Linked DNA regions of Homo sapiens. Changing the gene in region 2 together with the main gene of any one other region gives a genetic interaction. Each region holds a gene or a part of one and is shown on either strand. Other genes may lie near its edges. The genes, in order: NPR1, TXN, PPP1CC and REV3L.

The links.
Region 1: changes in TXN (region 2) and NPR1 together harm fitness more than expected from each alone (negative genetic interaction), as found in Homo sapiens cells (one large-scale study listed by BioGRID).
Region 3: changes in TXN (region 2) and PPP1CC together harm fitness less than expected from each alone (positive genetic interaction), as found in Homo sapiens cells (one large-scale study listed by BioGRID).
Region 4: changes in TXN (region 2) and REV3L impair growth when combined (synthetic growth defect), as found in Homo sapiens cells (one large-scale study listed by BioGRID).

Annotation. Positions count from the first base shown.
Region 1 is NC_000001.11:153,689,590-153,694,492, forward strand, and holds the end of NPR1 (atrial natriuretic peptide receptor 1 precursor), read left to right. Parts: intron 1-115; exon of another isoform or gene 116-204; intron 205-216; coding exon 217-391; intron 392-694; coding exon 695-793; intron 794-3,516; coding exon 3,517-3,608; intron 3,609-3,762; coding exon 3,763-3,825; 3' UTR 3,826-4,403; downstream 4,404-4,903. UniProt on the Homo sapiens protein: Receptor for the atrial natriuretic peptide NPPA/ANP and the brain natriuretic peptide NPPB/BNP which are potent vasoactive hormones playing a key role in cardiovascular homeostasis.
Region 2 is NC_000009.12:110,245,413-110,250,912, forward strand, and holds part of TXN (thioredoxin), read right to left. Parts: intron 5,468-5,500; coding exon 5,408-5,467; intron 1-5,407. UniProt on the Homo sapiens protein: Participates in various redox reactions through the reversible oxidation of its active center dithiol to a disulfide and catalyzes dithiol-disulfide exchange reactions.
Region 3 is NC_000012.12:110,735,020-110,740,519, reverse strand, and holds part of PPP1CC (serine/threonine-protein phosphatase PP1-gamma catalytic subunit), read left to right. Parts: intron 1-5,500. UniProt on the Homo sapiens protein: Protein phosphatase that associates with over 200 regulatory proteins to form highly specific holoenzymes which dephosphorylate hundreds of biological targets.
Region 4 is NC_000006.12:111,300,634-111,305,976, forward strand, and holds part of REV3L (DNA polymerase zeta catalytic subunit), read right to left. Parts: intron 1-5,343. UniProt on the Homo sapiens protein: Catalytic subunit of the DNA polymerase zeta complex, an error-prone polymerase specialized in translesion DNA synthesis (TLS). Lacks an intrinsic 3'-5' exonuclease activity and thus has no proofreading function.

The DNA.
Region 1 (4,903 bases), on a different chromosome or scaffold from region 2:
GGCAGAATGATGTGGAGTCTTAAGAGAGGAGATCGGGGACACGGGCAGAGACAGTGACACAGGGAGACCCGGGAACAGGCAGAGAACCCATGTGGGATGGGGGATGAGCAAAGACAGATGAGGGTACAGAATGACAGACGCTGCACCCGGTGTGACGGTGTGGCCGGCCGCACAGTTGCAGCCGTCAAGTCCTGCACCCCCTCGCCACTCCCACAGGTGGAGACAATTGGCGATGCCTACATGGTGGTGTCAGGGCTCCCTGTGCGGAACGGGCGGCTACACGCCTGCGAGGTAGCCCGCATGGCCCTGGCACTGCTGGATGCTGTGCGCTCCTTCCGAATCCGCCACCGGCCCCAGGAGCAGCTGCGCTTGCGCATTGGCATCCACACAGGTAAGGCCACTGAAGGTGCAGGCGGGCATCCAGAGGCCAAGGCTTCGCAAGGGAAACTTGTCCCCTGGCCCAGCCCCTCGCCCTTTCATCTCTCTCTCTCTCTCTCTCTCTCTCTCTCTCTCTCTCTGTCTCTCTCTCTCTCTCTCTCTCTCTCTCTCTCTCACACACACACACACACACACACACAGAGCTGGGACCTCAGATCCTGCCTCCTGCCTGTCTTGGATTGTCCACCTACCTCCCTTAACACCCCTCCCTCCCTCACTCGCTGATGGGCTCTGCTCCTTCCCTTGCTCCTCCCAGGACCTGTGTGTGCTGGAGTGGTGGGACTGAAGATGCCCCGTTACTGTCTCTTTGGGGATACAGTCAACACAGCCTCAAGAATGGAGTCTAATGGGGAAGGTACAGTGCCCCCTCCTAGAGGGAATGGGGAGGGCAGGGTGGCTGAGGGAAATGCCATCCTGGGGCAGCCTGTGCCTGCACAGCCCGTTTCAGCTCCTAGCCCTTTCGCCTCCCAAGTTCCCCTTCTCATAATATTAAGAGTTCAACCTGGGCTCATCAACTTGACTGTAACCAGAGACTCAGGTTCCTGCTGCCCCTCTTGTCAAACGATGTAAAAGTATTTCCGGGCCAGTGCTGGAGAGTTCCCAGCAGGAATCTGATTTTAAGACCCTCTGTGGGCCGGGCGTGGTGACTCACACCTGTAATCCCAGCACTTTGGGAAGCTGAGGCAGGCGGATCACCTGAGGTCGGGGGTTCGAGACCAGCCTGACCAACATGATGAAATCCCGTCTCTACTAAAAATACAAAAAACTAGCCAGGTGTGATGGCAGGCTCCTGTAATCCCAGCTACTTGGGAGGCTGAGGCAGAAGAATTGCTTGAACCCGGGAGGCAGAGGTTGCGATGAGCCAAGATTACACCACGCACCCCAGCTTGGGCAATAAGAGTTAAACTCTGTCTCAAAAAAAAAAAAAAAAAAAAAAAAAAAGACCCTCTGCTCCACCTTTGATGTGGTAAAGATGGCTTCAGAGCCAGCATAAGTGAGGCTGTGAATCTCAGCTCCACAGCTGGCTGTGTGTCAGTTTGCTATACCTCTCTGAGCCATGGTTTTCCTCATCTGTAAAAAGAGGGAAAAAATCTATCTCACAGGAATTATGTGAGAAACCCATTAAAAATGTCTACCACATAATTGTCATTTAACTTTTCCAAGCCTTAGCGGATTATCTGTAAAATGATGTCTATCTCAGGATTGCAAGAAGCCTAGCACAAACCCTGGTACCCAGCAGGCACCTAATAAATTCTTACTCCTACCCGCCCCTTGCTCTTGCCTCCTGTTTATCTTCTATCCTTCTGCTGTATTCGACACAATTCAATGCAGTAAACATTTATTGAGTGACTACTGAGTGCCAGGCCCTGGGATAGTAACATGGCCCAGATCCAGAGTTAGCTGAGAAATTCATGTGGACCCCATCTAAACCTTATGGTGAAAGAAAGGCTGCTTGGGAGCCAGTCCTGGGAGCCCAGAGGGATCTAGTTCGGCAAATATTCCCTGGGCACTATTTTGGGGGCTGTCAGAGTACAGCCCCTTGTTGAGGGTCCAGTCCTCAAGGAGCACATTCCCAGAAATTGTTCAACATTCTGGGCGCTGGGGGTGCTTGTAATCCCAGCACTTTGGGAGGCCGAGGTGGGCAGATCACTTGAGGCCAGGAGTTGGAGACTAGCCTGGCCAACATGGTGAACCTCCTGTCTCTACTAAAAATACAAAAAATTAGCTGGGCGTGGTGGCACGTGCCCGTAATCCCAGCTACTCAGGAGGCTGAGACATGAAAATCACTTGAACCCAGGAGGTGGATGTTGCAGTGAGCCGAGACTGCACCCCTGGGCAACAGAGCGAGACTCTGTCTCAAAAAAAAAAAAGAGAGAAAGAAAGAAAAGAAAAGAAAGAAACTGTTAAACACAACAAGGCCACTGTGATTGATGCAAACCCCAGAAGTAGGGACATGAGTTCAGACAGTGGTCAAAGAGAGGGTGTGGCAATATTGGGCCCCACTCCATCACTGACCTCCTCAGCCACTTGGGCAGATCACCCTGGGCCTCAGTTCCTCGGCCACAAAATGAGGGTATAGCATGAAATCATGAAAGCAACAATTTACATAGTGCTTCCTAGGTAGCACATTCCGTTTGAATACTTTATGGATGTTAAATTTAATCCTCACAACAAGGTTTTGAGATGGGTACTGACACTATCAGCATTTTACAGATTAGGAAAATGAAGCAGAGAGAATTTATTTTACATACCTAAGCAAGTATCCAAGCTGAGGTTCATACTGAGGCAGTGCAGGATCCAAAGTGCCAGCTCCTAACCACCATGCTGTGTAGAGCCGGGTGACACTCCAGAGAGTGCTGTCCAACAGGATGTTCCATAGTCATGAAAATGTTCTGTATTCTGTGCTGTCCAATACAGTAGCCTCTAGGCACATATGGCTACTTATCACTGGAAATGTGACGGGTGCAACTGAGGCCCTGATTTTTTTTTTTTTTTTTGGAGACAGAGTTTCGCTCTGTCGCCCAGCCTGGATGGAGTGCAGTGGTGCAATCTCGGCTCACTGCAACCTCCGCCTCCCAGGTTCAAGCGATTCTCCTGCCTCAGCCTCCCAAGTAGCTGGAATTACAGGTGAGTGCCACCACACACAGCTAATTTTTGTATTTTTAGTAGAGACGGGGTTTCGCCATATTGGCCAGGATGGTCTCGAACTCCTGGCCTCAAGTGATCCTCCTGCCTCAGCCTCCCAAAGTGCTGGGATTACAGGTGTGAGCCACAGCACCCAGCCTGAATTTTTAACTGTATTTAGTTTAAATTAATTTAAGTTGAAACAGGCACATGTGATTAGTGGCTACTGTATTGGATTACACAGCTCCAGAGTTCTAAATGAGAGGCTAATGTGGTCACGCACTACATTCAGGGGGTGGGGCCCCTCTGAGCTAGAGGGCTTCCTGGCCCAAAAGAGGGAGAGAGGGTACCTGTCCACCTGTCCACCCCCACAGTCCCTGGTCTCTTTTGCCTCTACTTTCCTGCTCTCCTCTCTCACATTGCTCACCTTCCCTTCTCCCCTGTCCTACCCAGCCCTGAAGATCCACTTGTCTTCTGAGACCAAGGCTGTCCTGGAGGAGTTTGGTGGTTTCGAGCTGGAGCTTCGAGGGGATGTAGAAATGAAGGTAGAGGGAGAAGCCTCTGCCCTCCCCACCTTTTGGGGTCCTAGAGGGAGTTACCCTTCTCAAGCAGCCAATGCCACTCCCATCCCTAAGGCTCTCATCTGACTGGGGAAAGGGCATGTGCCACTCCCCAGCCCATCCTCTTTTTTCCCTCCAGGGCAAAGGCAAGGTTCGGACCTACTGGCTCCTTGGGGAGAGGGGGAGTAGCACCCGAGGCTGACCTGCCTCCTCTCCTATCCCTCCACACCTCCCTACCCTGTGCCAGAAGCAACAGAGGTGCCAGGCCTCAGCCTCACCCACAGCAGCCCCATCGCCAAAGGATGGAAGTAATTTGAATAGCTCAGGTGTGCTGACCCCAGTGAAGACACCAGATAGGACCTCTGAGAGGGGACTGGCATGGGGGGATCTCAGAGCTTACAGGCTGAGCCAAGCCCACGGCCATGCACAGGGACACTCACACAGGCACACGCACCTGCTCTCCACCTGGACTCAGGCCGGGCTGGGCTGTGGATTCCTGATCCCCTCCCCTCCCCATGCTCTCCTCCCTCAGCCTTGCTACCCTGTGACTTACTGGGAGGAGAAAGAGTCACCTGAAGGGGAACATGAAAAGAGACTAGGTGAAGAGAGGGCAGGGGAGCCCACATCTGGGGCTGGCCCACAATACCTGCTCCCCCGACCCCCTCCACCCAGCAGTAGACACAGTGCACAGGGGAGAAGAGGGGTGGCGCAGAAGGGTTGGGGGCCTGTATGCCTTGCTTCTACCATGAGCAGAGACAATTAAAATCTTTATTCCAGTGACAGTGTCTCTTCTTGAGGGAGAGAGGGTTGCCAGAAAACAGTCAGTTCTCCACTCTCTACTTCAAATAAGACTCACTTCTTGTTCTACAAGGGTCTAGAAGGAAAAGTAAAAAAAAAAGACTCTCGATTCTTAAGCTGGGAATGCAGGCTCTGAGAGTAGTAACAGCCTATGAATTGCCCAGCAGTGCTGAAACTGGTTTAAGGACCCATTTACATCCTTAAGAATTATTATTATTGGCCGGGCACAGGGGCTCATGCCTGTAATCCCAGCACTTTGGGAGGCTGAGGTGGATGGATCACCTGAGGTCAAGAGTTCAAAACCAGCCTGGCCAACATGGTGAAACCCAGTCTCTACTAAAAATACAAAAATTAGCTGGGTATGGTGGCACGCGCCTGTAATCCCAGCTACTCAGGAGACTGAGGCAGGAGAATCTCTTTTTTTTTTTTTTTTTTTGAGACGGAGTCTCGCTCCTTCGCCCAGGCTGGAGTGCAGTGGTGCC
Region 2 (5,500 bases):
TTATTATTTTTGAGACAGGGTCTGGCTGTGTCACCCAGGCTGGATGGAATGCAGGGGCATAGTCTCAGCTCACTGCAATCTCCACTTCCCAGACTCAAGCCATCCTCCCTCCTCAGCCTCCCCAGTAGCTGGGACTACAGGCACACGCCACCACACCTGGCTAATTTTGTGTGTGTGTGTGTATATATATACACACACACACACACTATATATATATATATATATATATATATATATATATATTTTTTTTTTTTTTTTTTTATAGGGACAAGGTCTCTCCATGTTGCCCAGGCTGGTCTCAAACTCATGAGCTCAAGTGATCCACCTTCCTCGGGCTCCCAAAGTGCTAGGATTACAGGTGTGAGCCACCACACTCAGCCTCCTGCTTATTTTTAATTAAAAACTGATTTGTGAGGCCAAGGCCGGTGGGTCACCTGAGGTCAGGAGTTCGAGACTAGCCTGGCTAACACGGAGAAACCCCATCTCTACTAAAAATACAAAAATTAGCCAGGTGTGGTGGCACACATCTGTCATCCCAGCTACTCAGGAGGTTGAGACAGGACAATTGCTTGAACCTGGGAGGCGGAGGTTGCAGTGAGCTGAGATCATGCCACTGTATTCCAGCCTGGGCGACAGAATGAGACTATCTCGGGAGGAAAAATAAAAAGACTTTGTGAATTCTCAAACCTTGCTGCAGTATCAGAATTACCTGAGGGGTACTACAAGTTTCCCCATCAACCCCATCTTAAACCATTACAGTTAAAGTCGGGCTTCAGGTGACTCTGATGCTCTAACCTTTGAAAGCCATCCTACTAAGAAAATCGACAAATTCCTAACATCGCAAATTGGGCTAGTTGATCCGTATTTTCTCCTCTCCTAGAAGTGGCTGTTACCACAGCTAAAGATTTTTCTACAGCTCAAAGGTAATTGAAGTAACACACATTCCTCAACTGTGGAATGCTAAATGAGAACTCTTATAATACCCCATGCTCAACACATTGTTCATGCTATAAGAGGGCAAGGTTTGGAGGACAATACCACGAAACTGGTTTGGTTTGGAGCCCAATAGAGATTGAAAATGTCAGCCAGGCACTCAAAAGAGGACTGGGAAAGAAATATAGAACCACTCAGCACCTAAGCAGCAAAAGCTACACAGGACAGCAAGCGAGCAGGCAGGACTGTTGATAACCAAATCACGGAAACCAACGGAGAATTCTCAAGGGGAAGAAAGGCCAGCTACAAACACTATGACGACCTCTAGGATGGTGGGTGGCACTACTGTTGAGGAGTTCTTTCTAGGTAATCTTTACTTTTTCTTTTAATGCTGGACACCTGCTGAGCATGAAAGTACAGGTTCCAGTAAGAGGCACAAGGACAGTAATGGCTGGAATAAAAATGGTGAATGTTTATTGAATGCATACTATTGAAAACTCACTCCAAGTAAGGGTCAGAGGGAGGTTACCATTTATAAAATAAGTATCATAACCCTGTTGGCTGTCAGAGAAATAAGGTTGGTCTATCATTTTCAAAAGGGCTACTACTCATACTTTTCTATCAATCTATGGAGGCAAAGTTAAAGTTCCTCAGTTTGTCAGAGGGTCACTTCAAGGTTTTAAAAGACACTTTCAGGCCAGGCACGGTAGCTCATGCCTCTAATCCCAGCACTTTGGGAGGCCAAGACGGGTGGATCACTTGAGGTGAGGAGTTCGAGACCAGCCTGGCCAACATGGCAAAATGCTGTCTCTACTAAAAAGTTGAAATTTAGCCTGGTGTGGTAGCGGCTGCCTGTAGTCCCAGCTACTCAGGAGGCTGAGGCAGAAGAATCGCTTGAACCCGGGAGGTGGAGGTTGCAGTGAGCAGAGATGGTACCACTGCACTCCAGCCTGGGTGACAGAGTGAGACTCTGTCTCAAAAAAAAAAAAAAAAAAGATACATTCAGGGTGATCAGGGTGCACCAAGCAGACATGAAGGAGGAGCTCTGTCATACGGAAGTCCTCGAGTGCTTTGCACACCTATAGTAATGCACCATATAACATTTAGATCGACAACAGATTGCATATATGTGGTGGTCCCATAAGATTATAATGAAGTTGAAAAATTCCTCTCACCTAGTGATGGGTTAATGTCATAGCCCATCGCATTAGCTGGTGCAAACAAATCTGCGCTGCAATTACATACAAAGTATACCACTACAGACTGCTTTACCTGCGGAATAGCCATTCTTTTGTTCCTTTACTTTCTTAATAAACTTGCTTTCACTTAAAAAAGCATATCACTACAATTATGGACAGTATATACTACTTGATAATAAACACCCACGTTACTGGTTTTTGTATTTACTTTAATTTCATTATTAATTTAGAGTGTACTCCTACTTATTTTTTTAAAAAGACAGTTACTATACAACAGGCTCAGGCAGGCCCTTCAGGAAGCATTCCAGGAGAAGGCACTGTTATCATAGGAGATGAAAGGTCCATGCATGTTACTGTCCCTGAAGACCTTTCTGTGAGACAAGATGTGGGGATGGGAGACAGTGATACTGATGATCCTGACCCTGTGTTGGTCTAGGCTAATGTATGTGTTTGAATCTTAGTTTGTAACAAAAAGTTTAAAAAGTCTTTTTAAAAAAAGCTTATAGACTAAGGATATAAAGAAAATATTTTTGTAGAGCTGTACAATGCATTCGTGTTTTAAGCTAAGTGTTATTACAAGAGTTAAAGAGTTAAAAAAATAAAAAAACTATAAAGTAAAAAAGTTACAATAAATTTATTGCTGAAAAAAGAAATTTTAAAAATAAAATTTGTAAGCATACAGTGTTTATAACGTCTACAGGTTCTAGGCCTTCACATTCACTCACCACCCACTCACTGACTCGCCCAGAGCACCTCTCAGTCCTGCAAGTCCCGTTTATGGCAAGTACCTTATAAAGGCATACCATTTTTTAATCTTTCATATCATGTTTTCACCATACCTTTTCTATGTTTAGATACACAAATACTTACTGTTGTGTTATAACTGCCTACAGTATTCAGTACAGTAACATGCCTTACCTGTTTGTGGCCTAGGAGCAACAGGCTTTACCACATAGCCTAGGTGTACAGGAGGCTATGCCATCTAGGTTGTGTAAGTACACTCTATGTGTGCACAACAAAATTGCCTAACATTTCTCAGAAAGTATCCTCATCATTAAGTGATGCATGACTGTACTTCCTAAAGGCAGTAAGAAGACCTGTCCTCAGTACAGTATGGTGCATTGGTCTGCCTCAAGAGACTGACTTTACCTTCTGTGCTGCAGTGCCATTACCTGTTCAATGAGGGTGCTAATAAAAAATACTCGTATAGTTATCGTGAGGATTAAATGACATAGTGCATGCAAAGGGCTTATCATGGCATCTGGCACCTATTATTGCTTTCAAATAAAAATCAAGGCCGGGCGTGGTGGATAATCCCAGCACTTTGGGAGGCCGAGGTGGGTGGATCACCTGAAGTCAGGAGTTCGAGACCAGCCTGACCAACATGGTGAAACCCCGTCTCTACTGGGGTTTTAATTTTGTAAAAATACAAAATTAGCCAGGCATGGTGGTGCATGCCTGTAATCCCAGCTACCCAGGAGGCTGAGACAGAGGATTGCTTAAACCCGGGAGGCAGAGGTTGCAGTGAGCCGAGATCATGCCACTGCACTCCACCCCAGGTGACAGAGTGAACTCCATCTCAAAAAAAAAAAAAAAAAAAAAAAAAAAAAAAAAATCAAGTTGCTATCTGATAGGATCAGTGGCAGTTAGAATTTCTCTATTCCAGGTGCAATTTTCCCCTAGCTAAATTGACCTTAATAAGACTAAGTTTGATTAAAACAAGGGATAAGGATTTTTCACAAAAATGCAATTACACTCTTTTTAAAAAAAAAAAAACAACTCTGGGACACATCTAGAATAGTAACTTAACAACCATATCACATTCATCATTCATTCATTCCACACCTATACTACATGCAAGGCAGGTGTGCTAGGTGAAGGGGCAACCAACGTGAATTAAGACAGGGTCTCTGATCCTAGGAATCTACTGAGACTAATGGTAAAGGACAGACATAAAGATCATTATAATAATTGCCAAGATTCACTGGGTACTTAGGGCACACAAGGCGGTAAGTGGAGAAGGGGTGAAGCTCATGACAAGGAGTTAGTCAGGTAGGAAAGGAAAGGACAGGCCAGATGGAGAAGACAGCACAAGCCAAGGCAGGGGTTGCCCAAGGCACAGAGTCAAAAACTGGCTAAGAATACACAATCTGGGGTTGTTGCGCCCTCCCATGTTTAGAGAGCACTGCCATATGCCTGTTTTAAGTGACCCTTCACCCTTTATTGGATATTCCATGTTTGCTCAATGAATAAGCAACCTTGGGAGGTTGATGGGGCAGGTCTTAAGGCTCAAGGAAGAGGAGTGACTGGCCTAAGCAGATGCTAGTGAGCCAGGACTGGAAGCCAGGTCCAGCGCCTCTGTTGCCACACTGCACCCTTCCCCCATCGCCTTTCCTTCTCCACTAGGGCTAAGTGAAAATGCTCACATATCTGTAAAGGGCCCCGAAGTGATACCTCCTCAACCCGCTCTCCTAGGTCTGTGGTCATGTGCTAAGCACCCGATCTACACCCACAAGACAGAGCATCCTCCGATGGGTAGTGCTTAAGGTCAAGGGCTGGGAAGCCAGACCACTTCATTTTAAATCCTAGTTCAGCCACATACTCACTGAAACTTCATGAACAACCTCTGTGTTTCAGTTTTCTCATCTATAAAATGGGGATGATAACAGCACTCAGGATTAAATGAACTGATACTTAAAAACCACCCAGAACAGTGCCTGGTATATACCTAGTGCAAAACAAGTATTTGTTAAATACAACCAACCCTGGAATTTCTTCCAAATTATTCTCTCAGGTACCTTGGTGTTTATTTGTTAAAACATTTGTGGTTTCTAATTGACTAAAATCAACCAAGACTAGAATAGGCTTGCAAATGCAGGTTCTCATGCTACTGCAAGTTCACAAAGAGCCCTACAAGCGGTCTCATAATTTGGTGACTCCATCAAGCCTATGGATGTAATGATCATAGCTAAATTCAATCTCCATTTATTGCACATCTCAGAGTGTAAAGTAGAATGTAGGGTTTTAGAAAGGTGGGTGGCCGATAAGATTCAGAAGTCTCACTCATTTATTTTTGTTTACTTTAGGATGTGATATACAGCTCCCGATAGCTAGGATTAAGCTCCTAACTTGCCTGCTCTTCTGAGATAGAACTTTTTAGATAGGATTACAGTTCTAGAATTATTTGACATATTTATGGAAAAAAGCACTGTGCAATTCAGAGAAAAAGGCCAATGTGAAAAGCTCAGCAGTATCTCATATTTCCAGCTACATACCTGACAGTCATCCACATCTACTTCAAGGAATATCACGTTGGAATACTTTTCAGAGAGGGACTGGAAAATTTAAAATGAAAAATCCAAAAAGAT
Region 3 (5,500 bases), on a different chromosome or scaffold from region 2:
CCATTGAGGATATGTAGATATCTAAGTTAAATGATGTTGGTAATAAATTCTGTTTTACAATTTTTTATTTAAAAAAATTAAATTTAATAATTTAAAATAGAAATGAGAGTCTCACTGTGTTGCCCAGGCTGTTCTCAAACTCCTGGTTTCAAGCAGTCCTCGCACCTCGTCCTCCCCAGGTGCTGGGGTTATAGTCATGAGCCACCGTGCCCGGCCTAAATTTTATTCTTTTCATAATGCCCCCAAAACCTTTTTTTTCCCTAAATAAGATGTAAGTATATCTGAAAGTAGAGGGAATATGACTTGTGACTTTGGCCAGATTTTTTTACGTGTTTAGAATTGATCTTTTAAGCTTGCGAGCAGTATAACCTAGTTGAGAAGTAGCTGAGTAATAGTACTAAAAAGCTAACTGAAAAGTGAAGTCTTAAGAAAAACAGCATGTTGGTTTAGATCTTAGTCACTAACCTTTGCAGTTCTTTTCTTCTCTGAACTCTGAGTATTTCTGTAAGCGAGGCATCACCTCTGCAACCCACCATGGATGCTTTTATCCAAGCTCTGCCTTGCTGATGATAAAACTTAAGGTTGTTAACTCCTTAGTATAACTGATGTTAGTTATTTAAATAACTACACAGTAAAACGGCATTTTGAGAGAAAATAAGCCAGCTGTTGATTTGGTCTGATGTATTGAAGACAAGTGAGATTTGGGGCAGTTTTACTTTGTAAATGACCTCCTTCAAGGAGCCATGGTGGCTAGCATTTTTTTTGCATAGCAGGTGGTTGTAACTTACTTCACATCTTGGTTTGCAAGAAGCATCTTTGCTTTGAAGAAGGCCATTGTCAAAGTGCAAGACCATGTCAGGCTCTGCAGAATTGCCTGACTTGTTTTAGTGATTTAAATATGATCTCTGCCCTGGCTCACAGAAAGTGCTTACAGATTTAATCCTCTGATACATAAGGGTTGTTCTGAAGGTAGGGAGTGTTCAGATATTCTGAAACTCTAAGATTGTTTAAATAACCCATATGTTCATCTTTTTGATGCAGTATAAAACGTTCATATTCTGGTGTTTAGCCATCCCTGGTCCTAAAGATAATAAAGGACAAACATAATGGTTTAAAAAGGGGAAGGTTTCTTAATATGCTAACCAAAAAAAAAAACAAAAGTAATCTTTCCTAATGAACACCTGTAATTATTTATTTTTTTATTTTATTTTGGAGACAGAGTCTCACTCTGTCACCCAGGCTGGAGTGCAGTGGTGGGATCCTGGCTCACTGCAACCTCTGCCTCCCGGGTTCAAGCGATTTTGGTGTCTCAGCCCCCTGAGTAGCTGGGATTAACAGGCATGCACCACCACGCTCGGCCAAGTTTTTGTATTTTTAGTAGAGATGAGGCCAGGCTGGTTTTGAACTCGTGACCTCAAGTGGTCTGCCCGCCTCAGACTCCCAAAGTGCTGGGATTACAGGCATGAGCCACCGTGCCCAGCCTGTAATTATTTGTTTACAGAGCAGGTAATTTTTACACTCACATCCAAGTTGTCAGTTTCTAATTCCCTCATTGATAAGAACTCTGATGTGAGCCCTTGCCCTTCCTTTCCCATCAGTATGTTGGTCATATGCCCACTTCCTCTCCTCCTAGGCAAGGTGGGAAAGCTCTGTTGGAGACAGATGATCTGCAGCTTGCAGGAGTCCTTTTTTAAACCACAGCATTGAAAAAGGATTACTCTCCTTGTGCCCGCAGTGCCCTCTTGCCTGTCAGTAGCAGGAGGCAGCAGTGAAATCTGACAGAATTGTGTGTGACGTTGTGCTTGCGGGGGATGTGACACACAGGAGCGCTCTGCATTCTGAGCCTAGGGTGTTCCTCCTCATAACTGGGCAAATGGACATGCAGTTGTAGCCCAGCAGTGGTCAGCTGTAGAAATTAGTGAGGTGATTTGATGTCTTTGAAAGCACAGTCCTATTACAACCTGTAACCTGTTGTGCAGAATCACAGTACCAGTCAGCCCACTTGACTAGGTGAGGATTCCTGATGGTGAAGCAGGGAAATTATTGATGTTATGTGGACTTCACCATTTAACTTAATTTACAATTGAGGCCATTAGTTGACCTGAGAGATTAAAATATGAAGGAGATAATATTCTGGGTGTCAGTCGCTTTGTAGATAAAGAACTGGAAAGTCATTCAAGACCAAGAAGGAAGGATTTCATTTCCATGGAGCTTATGGAATTCCAGGATAGAGTTTGATATTTTAAGATCATACCTCTGTATCCAAAGCATCAAGAACAGATGATGTGTTTGTGGATCTTGGTGATTTGTCTGAAATCTCCAGCTTCCCCACTTCACTGGGGTTTACTGTCATCCCTCTTCTAGAAGGTAGTGGTCATCACCGACAGTAAAGCTTACAGCAAATGAAAACTCAAAATGTAGTCTACTCAGTGGTATATTACCGAAATGTGTTCTTAGACTGTGAAAATTAAAGTTTTTAATGGATTGGCTTTACTCGAGGTGTAGAAAACTCAAGATGCTTTATTGAGAACAGTAGACAGTGTTTTGCAGCCACATCCTATCTGCCTTGAAAAAAATGGTGTCACTTTTATTTTTTTTACTAGAGACTGGGTCTCACTCTGTCCCCAGGCTGGAGACCTGAACTCCTGGGTTCAAGCGATTCTTCCTCCTCATCCTCTTGGCTAGCCGGATCTATAGGCACACACCACCACACCTGGCTAATTTTTTTTTCTTTTTCTTTTTTTCTTAAAGACAGGGGTGTTGCCTAGGCTGTTCTTTAACTCCTGGCCACAAGCAGTCCTCCCACCTCAGCCTCCCAAAGTGCTGGGATTACAAGCGTGAACCACAGCTCCCTGCCTTGGTGTCACTTCTCAATGCCTGAAGTGTAACCCCATCTGTTAGGAAAATCAGGATGGGAGAGGGCAGGGTGTGGAAACAATTGTGATAATCAGAACATGGAAGTCTTTCTGCTGGTGACTTTGCAGAGAAACTTAAAGGGTTCTTTTTTCTTTTCTTTTCTTTTTTTTTTTTTTTTTTTTTTTTGAGTCTTTCTTTGTCACCCAGGCTGGAGTGCAGTGGCAGGATCTCGGCCCACTGCTGCCTCCACCACCCAGGTTCAAGCGATTTCTCCTGCCTCAGCCTCAGTTGTTGAGTAGCTGGGACTACAGGCATGTACCACCATGCCCTGCTAATTTTTGTATTTTTGGTAGAGATGGGGTTTTACCATGTTGGCCAGGCTGGTCTCAAACTCCTGACCTCAGCTGATCCACCCACCTTGGCCTCCCAAAGTGCTGGGATTACAGGCGTTAGACACCGCATCCGGCCCAAAGGATTCTTGATAACATTTTTGTGGTTTATACTTTTTGCAGAAAAGAACTCAGTCGTTTATGGGAATGCTTAATGTTGGAAGTATTTACTGTTTTTTGTTTTGGTTTGAGTCTTATTTTCCTAAATCTGTCAAATATCATGAGGCTATTGATTTCACTGAAATGAATATGATGTGGCATATTGTTAAAATTATCACCTACTTTTTAACAGGATTATTTTAAAACAGCAAAATCTTCGTTGGCTTATTTTTATACCACTTGTGCCTTTCTTAGGTTCTGAAACTTCATTAGAATTCAGCTAGGGCTTTTTTAGTATATGCTATTTCTTTAATATGTTTTTATTTAAACAATTAAGGGGCCTTTATGTGGCAAGGAAAATACTTTTTTATTCCTTATAAATAATCTCAAACTTGTCTTAAATTTCCTTCCATAGTTTCCATCTTTGCTTTGCTTTTTGCCAGCAGCTAACTTTCAAAAGTTAGTATTGCTTATGAGAAAGAGCTGGTGTTGTAAATAATCACCAATGCTATTTTATTTATTTATATTTTTTGAGACAGGATCTCACTCTGTGGCCCAGGCTGGAGTGCAGTGGCATGATCTCGGCTCAATGCAGCATCTGTCTCCCGGGCTCAAGTGATCCTCCCATCTTAGCCTCCCGAGTAGCTGGGACTACAGGCGCACGCCACCATGTCCAGCTATATTTTGTATTTTTGGTAGAGACTCAATTTCACCATGTTGCCCAGGCTAGTCTCTAACTCCTGAGCTCAAGTGATCCTCCCACCTCGGCCTCCCAAAGTGCTGGGATTATAGGCCCAAGCCACCACATCTGGCTGCTATTCTTTTATAATTCAAATTTTTACCAGTTTGTTTTCAATAAAAATGTGTGGAAGTTTTTATTATTGCTCGTGTCAGTGATTTGCCAGAAAAATAGATCAGATACATTTCTACAGAGCAACCTTCGCTTTTAACAGTAATAATACGTTTTCCTGAATCTCCCTTTCTAGCCAGATAAAGAAATATTAATACTTCTACTGAAAAGTCACATCCTTAGGTCTAAGTTGGTGTTGCTTTTTTGTTGTTGTTTGTTTGTTTGTTTTGAGACGGAGTTTGTTTGTTTGTTTGTTTGTTTTGAGACAAAGTCTTATTCTTGTTCCCCAGGCTGGAGTGTGATGATGCGATCTGGGCTCACTGCAACCTGCCCCGTGGGTTCCAGCGATTCTCCTGCCTCAGCCTCCCGAGTAGCTGGGATTACAGGTGCCTGCCACCACGCCTGGCTAATTTTTGTATTTTTAGTAGAGACGGGGTTTCACCATGTTGGCCAGGCTGGTCTCGAACTCCTTACCTCAGGTGATCCGCCCGCTTCGGACTCCTAAAGTGCTGGGATTACTGGCATGAGCCACCGTGCCTGGCCGAGACGGAGTTTCTTTCTTGTTGCCCAGGATGGAGTGCAGTGGCACAATCTCGGCTCACTGCAACTTCCACCTCCCAGGTTCAAGTGATTCTCGTGCCTCAGCCTCCTGTGTAGCTGGGGTTACAGGCGTGCACCACCATGCCCAGCAAATTTTTGTATTTTTAGTAGAGATGGGGTTTCACCATGTTGGCCAGGCTGGTCTCGAACTCCTAACCTCAGGTCATCCACCCATCTCGGCCTCCCAAAGTGTTGGGATTACAGGCATGAGCCACCGTGCCCAACCTTCTCCTTTGGTTTTGAAGTTCAATGTAGAACAGATTCTTAATTGGGAATTAAGAATGCACCACTAGATGTAGCATCGCGGCCTCGTGTCCTTAAGCTCTGTGACCTTGGACTAAGTCACTGTAAAATGGGAGATGACAGTGCCTGACTTCCTAGGATCGTTGACAGGATTGAATGGCAATATAAAGCCCTTAGTACAGTGCCTAGTGGATAAGTGCTCAGTAAATGTTAACTACAACGAGTAAATAATTCTGTTTGATGGACATTGAAAATAGTGAAGTGGGCCAGGCACGGTGGCGCACGCCTATAATCCCAGCTACTTGGGAGGCTGAGGCAGGAGAATCACTTGAACCCAGGAGGTGGAGGTTGCAGTGAGCCACGATCGCATCACTGCACTCCAGCCTGGCAACAGAGTGAGACTCCATCTCAAAAAAAGAAAGAAAAAAATAGTGAAGTGAATTTGTATGCTTTTGGCTGATAT
Region 4 (5,343 bases), on a different chromosome or scaffold from region 2:
AAATTAATACTTTCATAATTTCTTATGCCTGTCTTTACTGCAATCTCTGAACATGAATTGTGAAGATTTCATGAACATTTATCACTTCCCCAATCAATACTCTTATAATTTCCTATGCCTGTCTTTAATCTTTTAATTCCGTCATCTCCGTAAGCTGAGGATGTATATCGCCTCAGGACCCTGTGGTGATTGCGTTATCTGCACAAATTGTTTGTAAAGCATGTGTGTTTGAACAATATGAAATCTGAGCACCTTGAAAAGAACAGGATAACAGCGATTTGCAGGGAATAAGGGAGATAACCATAAAATCTGACTGCCTGCAGGGCCTGGCAGAACAGAGTCATATTTCTCTTCTTTCAGAAAGCGAATAGGAGAAATATCGCTGAATTCTTTTCTCAGCAAGGAATAACCCCGGGAAAACGAATGCATTCTCAGGGGTAGGTCTCTAAAATGGCCACTCTGGGAGTGTCTGTCTTATGCAGTTGTAGACACGGGATGAAATATGCCCTGGCCTCCTGCAGCACCCCCAGGCTTGCTAGGATTAGGAAATTCCAGCCTGGCGAATTCTAGTCAGACTGGTTGTCTGATCACGAACCCTGTTTCCTGTTAAGATGTTTATCAATGACAATGTGTGCCCAGCACGACATGGACCTTCATCAGTAATTCTAGTTTCACCCTGGCCTTGTGATCTCACTCTGCCTCTTTGCTGTTGTGATATTTTACTGCCTTTGAAGCATGTGACCCACTCCCTATTCGTACACCCCTCCCCTTTTGAAACCCCTAATAAAAACTTGCTGGTTTTGTGGCTCAAGGGGCATCAAGGAACCTGCCAACATGTGATGTCACCCCCAGAGACCCAGCTGTAAAATTTCAAAAAAAAAAAAAATCAAATAATGTGAATTTGAAAGTAGTGGTGCAGACCAGTGGTTCTTAACCCTGGCTAACAATGAGCTTAAAAATAAACAAGTGCCCCATCCCAGACCCATAATGAGTCAGAATCTCCAGGCATGAAAGCCTAAGAATCTGTACTTCTTAAGGCTTCCCAGATGATTTGGATGTATAATAAGATCTGATCTTAAGGAAAATAATAAATCATAAGGCAATTTTTAAAAAGAGAAGCACTATAATGTTTTACACAATGATCAATTTTTAAAAATACTTTAAAGTCTCAAGTTGCATATATAGTTAAAAAAAAGGTTATAAAACATGAAGAACATAAAAAAATTAAAAAGGATGCCAATGAAGACTCCAAAGGTTAAGAAAATGCAGGCCGACTTTCACCTGAATAGTGTAGACAAGTGATTTTAAAAAAGCCATACCAAATGGCAACAACTACTCTGGATTGTCTTTTAAGAGAAATCAAATACGCTCTAGTGAATTCTTTGATCTATATTTATCAAAGGGTTTCAGTTTCAGAGATGGCTCACAGGCCAGTGAAGTTTTGTTCTTTGCCCCAGTTATCTTCCAGTTAACCGAAGGGCACACTTTTTCTAAGTAGACTGGTTACTGTATCCAATATTATGATATTGTCACAAGCAGACTGCTTACAAACATGTGCTTCAGTATGCTCCATGAAGACTGAGTATGCTGTTCTATGATGAAGCCTTTGCTAATTAGATCTCTGCCAAGAGACTCAAATCTATTCCCAAATATAGAATTTCTGTATTACAGCTCTATGAATTGCAGTTACATTCAGGTGCCAGGACAAACTGATAAATATTTAAGCTCTTTCTGTGCTTGTCTGATAAATAAGCCAGGATGGAATTACTTGACTCACTAAATTTAACTCAGTGTTTAGTTTCAAGATCCTTTACTGGTTTAAACCCTGAGCATTATAGCTTGATTCAGGCTTACATTTAAAACTTTAGTGCCCCAACCCGGACATCTACTTTGTAGCACATAGGGAGGCAGGCACTTAAAAAATATCTGCTTTAATCTTTATTCTTTTTACTATCCTTTGGCTTTCTTGTTCAAAAAAAATTTAGTCAAGGCTGGGCACAGTGGCTCATGCCTGTAATCCTAGTACTCTGGGAGGCAGAGGCAGGTGGATCACCTGAGGTCAGGAGTTTGAGACCACCTGGCCAACATGGTGAAACTGTCTCCACTAAAAATACGAAAATTAGCTGGGCGTGGTGGTGCATGCCTGTAATCCCAGCTACTCGGGAGGCTGAGGCAGGAGAATTGCTTGAACCTGGAAGGCAGAGGTTGCAGTGAGCCAAGATTGCACCAACTACACTCCAGCCTGGGCAACAGTGAGACTCCGTCTCAAAAAAAATTTTTCAGTCAGATGCTTGCTTCATTTGCTTTCATTCTTTCATGTTTATGATTAACAGTGTTAAGGTGATGAATTTTTCTCTGAGGTCTGCCATCTAGAATCTGATTTGCAGTGTTTTCATTTTGTTTAACAGAATTTACAAGTGGAAGGATCACTTTTTTTTTTAGTTTGTAATTAATTACCATTTTATAGCATTGTATTACATTCATTTGTAATATTTCTACTTTTTGAAATGTACTGAGGCTTTCTTTTCTTTCTTTTTTTTTTTTTTTTTGAGATGAGAGAGAGCGTCTCATTCTGTTGCCCAGGCTGGAGTGCAGTGGCATGATCTCAGTTCACTGCAACCTCTGCCTCCTAGGTTCAAGTGATTCTCCTGCCTCAGCCTCCTTAGTAGCTGGGATTGCGGGTGCCCGCCACCATGCCTGGCTAATTTTAAATTTTAATTTTTATTATTTTATTTTTAATTTATTATTTTTGAAATGGAGTCTCACTCTGTTGCCCAGGCTGGAGTGCAGTGGCACAATCTCAGCTCACTGTAACCTCTGCCTCCCTGGCTCAAGCGATTGTCCTACCTCAGCCTCCCAAGTAGCTGGGATTATAGGTGCCTGCCACCATACCCTGCTAATTTTTGTATTTTTAGTAGAGATGGGGTTTTGCCATGTTGGCCAGGCTGGTCTCAAACTCCTGCCCTCAAGTGATCCTCCTGCCTCAGCCTCCCAAAGTGCTGGGATTATAGGCGTGAGCCATGATCCCCAGCCGAGGCTTTTTTTTTTTTTTTTTAACAGACTATGACTTTTTTTTTTTTTTTTTTTTTTTTTTTTTTTTTTTTAAGATGGAGTCTTGCTCTGTCACCCAGGCTGGAGTTCAGTGGTGTGATCTCGGCTCACTGCAGCCTCTGCCTCCTGGGTTCAAGTGATTTTCCTGCCTCAGCCTCCTGAGTAGTTGGGAGTACAAGGCTCATGCCACCATGCCTGGCTAATTTTTGTATTTTTTAGTAGAGCTGGGGTTTCTCCATGTTGGCCAAACGTTTCAAACTCCTGACCCCAGGTGATCTACCTGCCTTGGCCTCCCAAAGTGTTGGGATTACAGGCATGAGTCACCACACCTGGCCAGATATTTTTAAAACATTCTAGAAACACTTAAGAAGTATATTTTTTGGTACTGGGTTACAGAGTTTGATATATAATCACAAGGTCTGACTTATAATGTTTACAATTTCCATAATTTCACTTATTTCTGATCACTTGATTGGTCTTGGATTGAGAATGATGTAAAATCTCCTGTTTGGATGTGTTTCTAATTCTCATTACATCTCTAGTAATTTCTGCTTCATTAAAAATTTCTACAAATTAGTGCATGGGAGACATTTAAAACATTCTAGAAACACTTAAGAAGTACATTTTTTGGTACTGGGTTACAGAGTTTGATATATAATCACAAGGTCTGACTTATAATGTTTACAATTTCCATAATTTCACTTATTTCTGATCACTTGATTGGTCTTGGATTGAGAATGATGTAAAATCTCCTGTTTGGATGTGTTTCTAATTCTCATTACATCTCTAGTAATTTCTGCTTCATTAAAAATTTCTACAAATTAGTGTATGGGAGACATTCATTTGAACGTTCTTGAAAAACACCTCAAATTAAAATAGCTCTTGAAAGATGACAAACCATCATTATTTATAAATAGCATCGCTTTTTCTTTTTTTTTTTTTTTTCGATCCAAGGGTATACATGTAGGTTTGTTACATGGGTATACTGTATGATGTTGAGGTTTGAGCTTCTAATGATCCTGTTGCCCATGCAGTAAATGTAGTATCTGACAGGTGGTTTTTCAACTTTTCCTCTCCTCACCCCCCTTTTGGAATCCCTAGTGTTCATCATTCCCATCTTTATGTCCATGAGTACCCAATGTTCATTATATGTGAGAACATGCAGTATTTGGTTTTCTGTTTCTGCGTTAATTTGCTTAGGATAATAGCCCCAGCTGCATCCATGTTGTTACAAAGGACATGATTTTGTTCTTTGTTCTTTTTTTTTTTTTTTTGAGACAGAGTTTCGCTCTTGTTCCCCAGGCTGGAGTGCAATGCTGCAATCTCAGCTCACTGCAACCTCTGCCTCCCAGGTTCAAGCGATTCTCCTGCCTCAGCCTCCTGAGTAGCTGGGATTACAGGCATGTGCCACCACGCCTGGCTAATTTTGTATTTTTAGTAGAGATGGAATTTCTCCATATTGGTCAGGCTGGTCTCGAACTCCCGACCTCACGTGATCCGCCCGCCTCGGCCTCCGAAAGTGCTGGGATTTGTAGGCATGAGCCACCACGCCCGGCCGATTTTATTCTTTTTTTATGGCTGTGGCATCACTTTCTTTTAAACTGTATTTTTATAAGAAATAAGATGGCCGGGCATCATGGTTCATGCCTGTAATCCCAGCCCTTAGGCAGCTGAAGTGGGAGGATTGCTTGAGTCCAACAGTTTGAGACCAGCCTGGGCAACATAGTGAGACCCGATGTCTAAAAAAAAATAATTAGTAAAACATGGTGGGATATGCCTGTAGTCCCAGCTACATGGGAGGCTGAGCTGAGAGGATCACTTGAGCCCAGGAGGTTGAGGCTGCAATGAGCTGTAATCATGCCACTGCATTTCAGTCTGGGTGACAAAGTGAGACCCTACCTCAAAAATAAAATAAAATAAAAATAAATAAATAAAAAGAAAAAAAGAATGAACACCTAATGTTGAAGGAGGATGGGCTCTGGGTAAATTGATGGCACCAAGTAGTGATGTGTTTGTCATTGAGTGCAGAAAAAACATAAGAAAGTCTAGGAAAGGACCATTTAACAGCCTGACCTTAGCAGAGCCCTGGAGGTCCTGCTCTCATTTAGGCGTCATACTAGGATCCAGCAAGGGAATTTTCTATGAGAGTTGGCTGCTGCCATCAGGACAGAAGTCTATTAAATAAATAGAAGCTGGGAGCACCCAGTGACTTCAGTGGTTGTACTGACTAGAACCACAAAACTGGTAAAAAATGGCTGAAAGTTGGTTGGTAATAACTCCAGTGATATATTC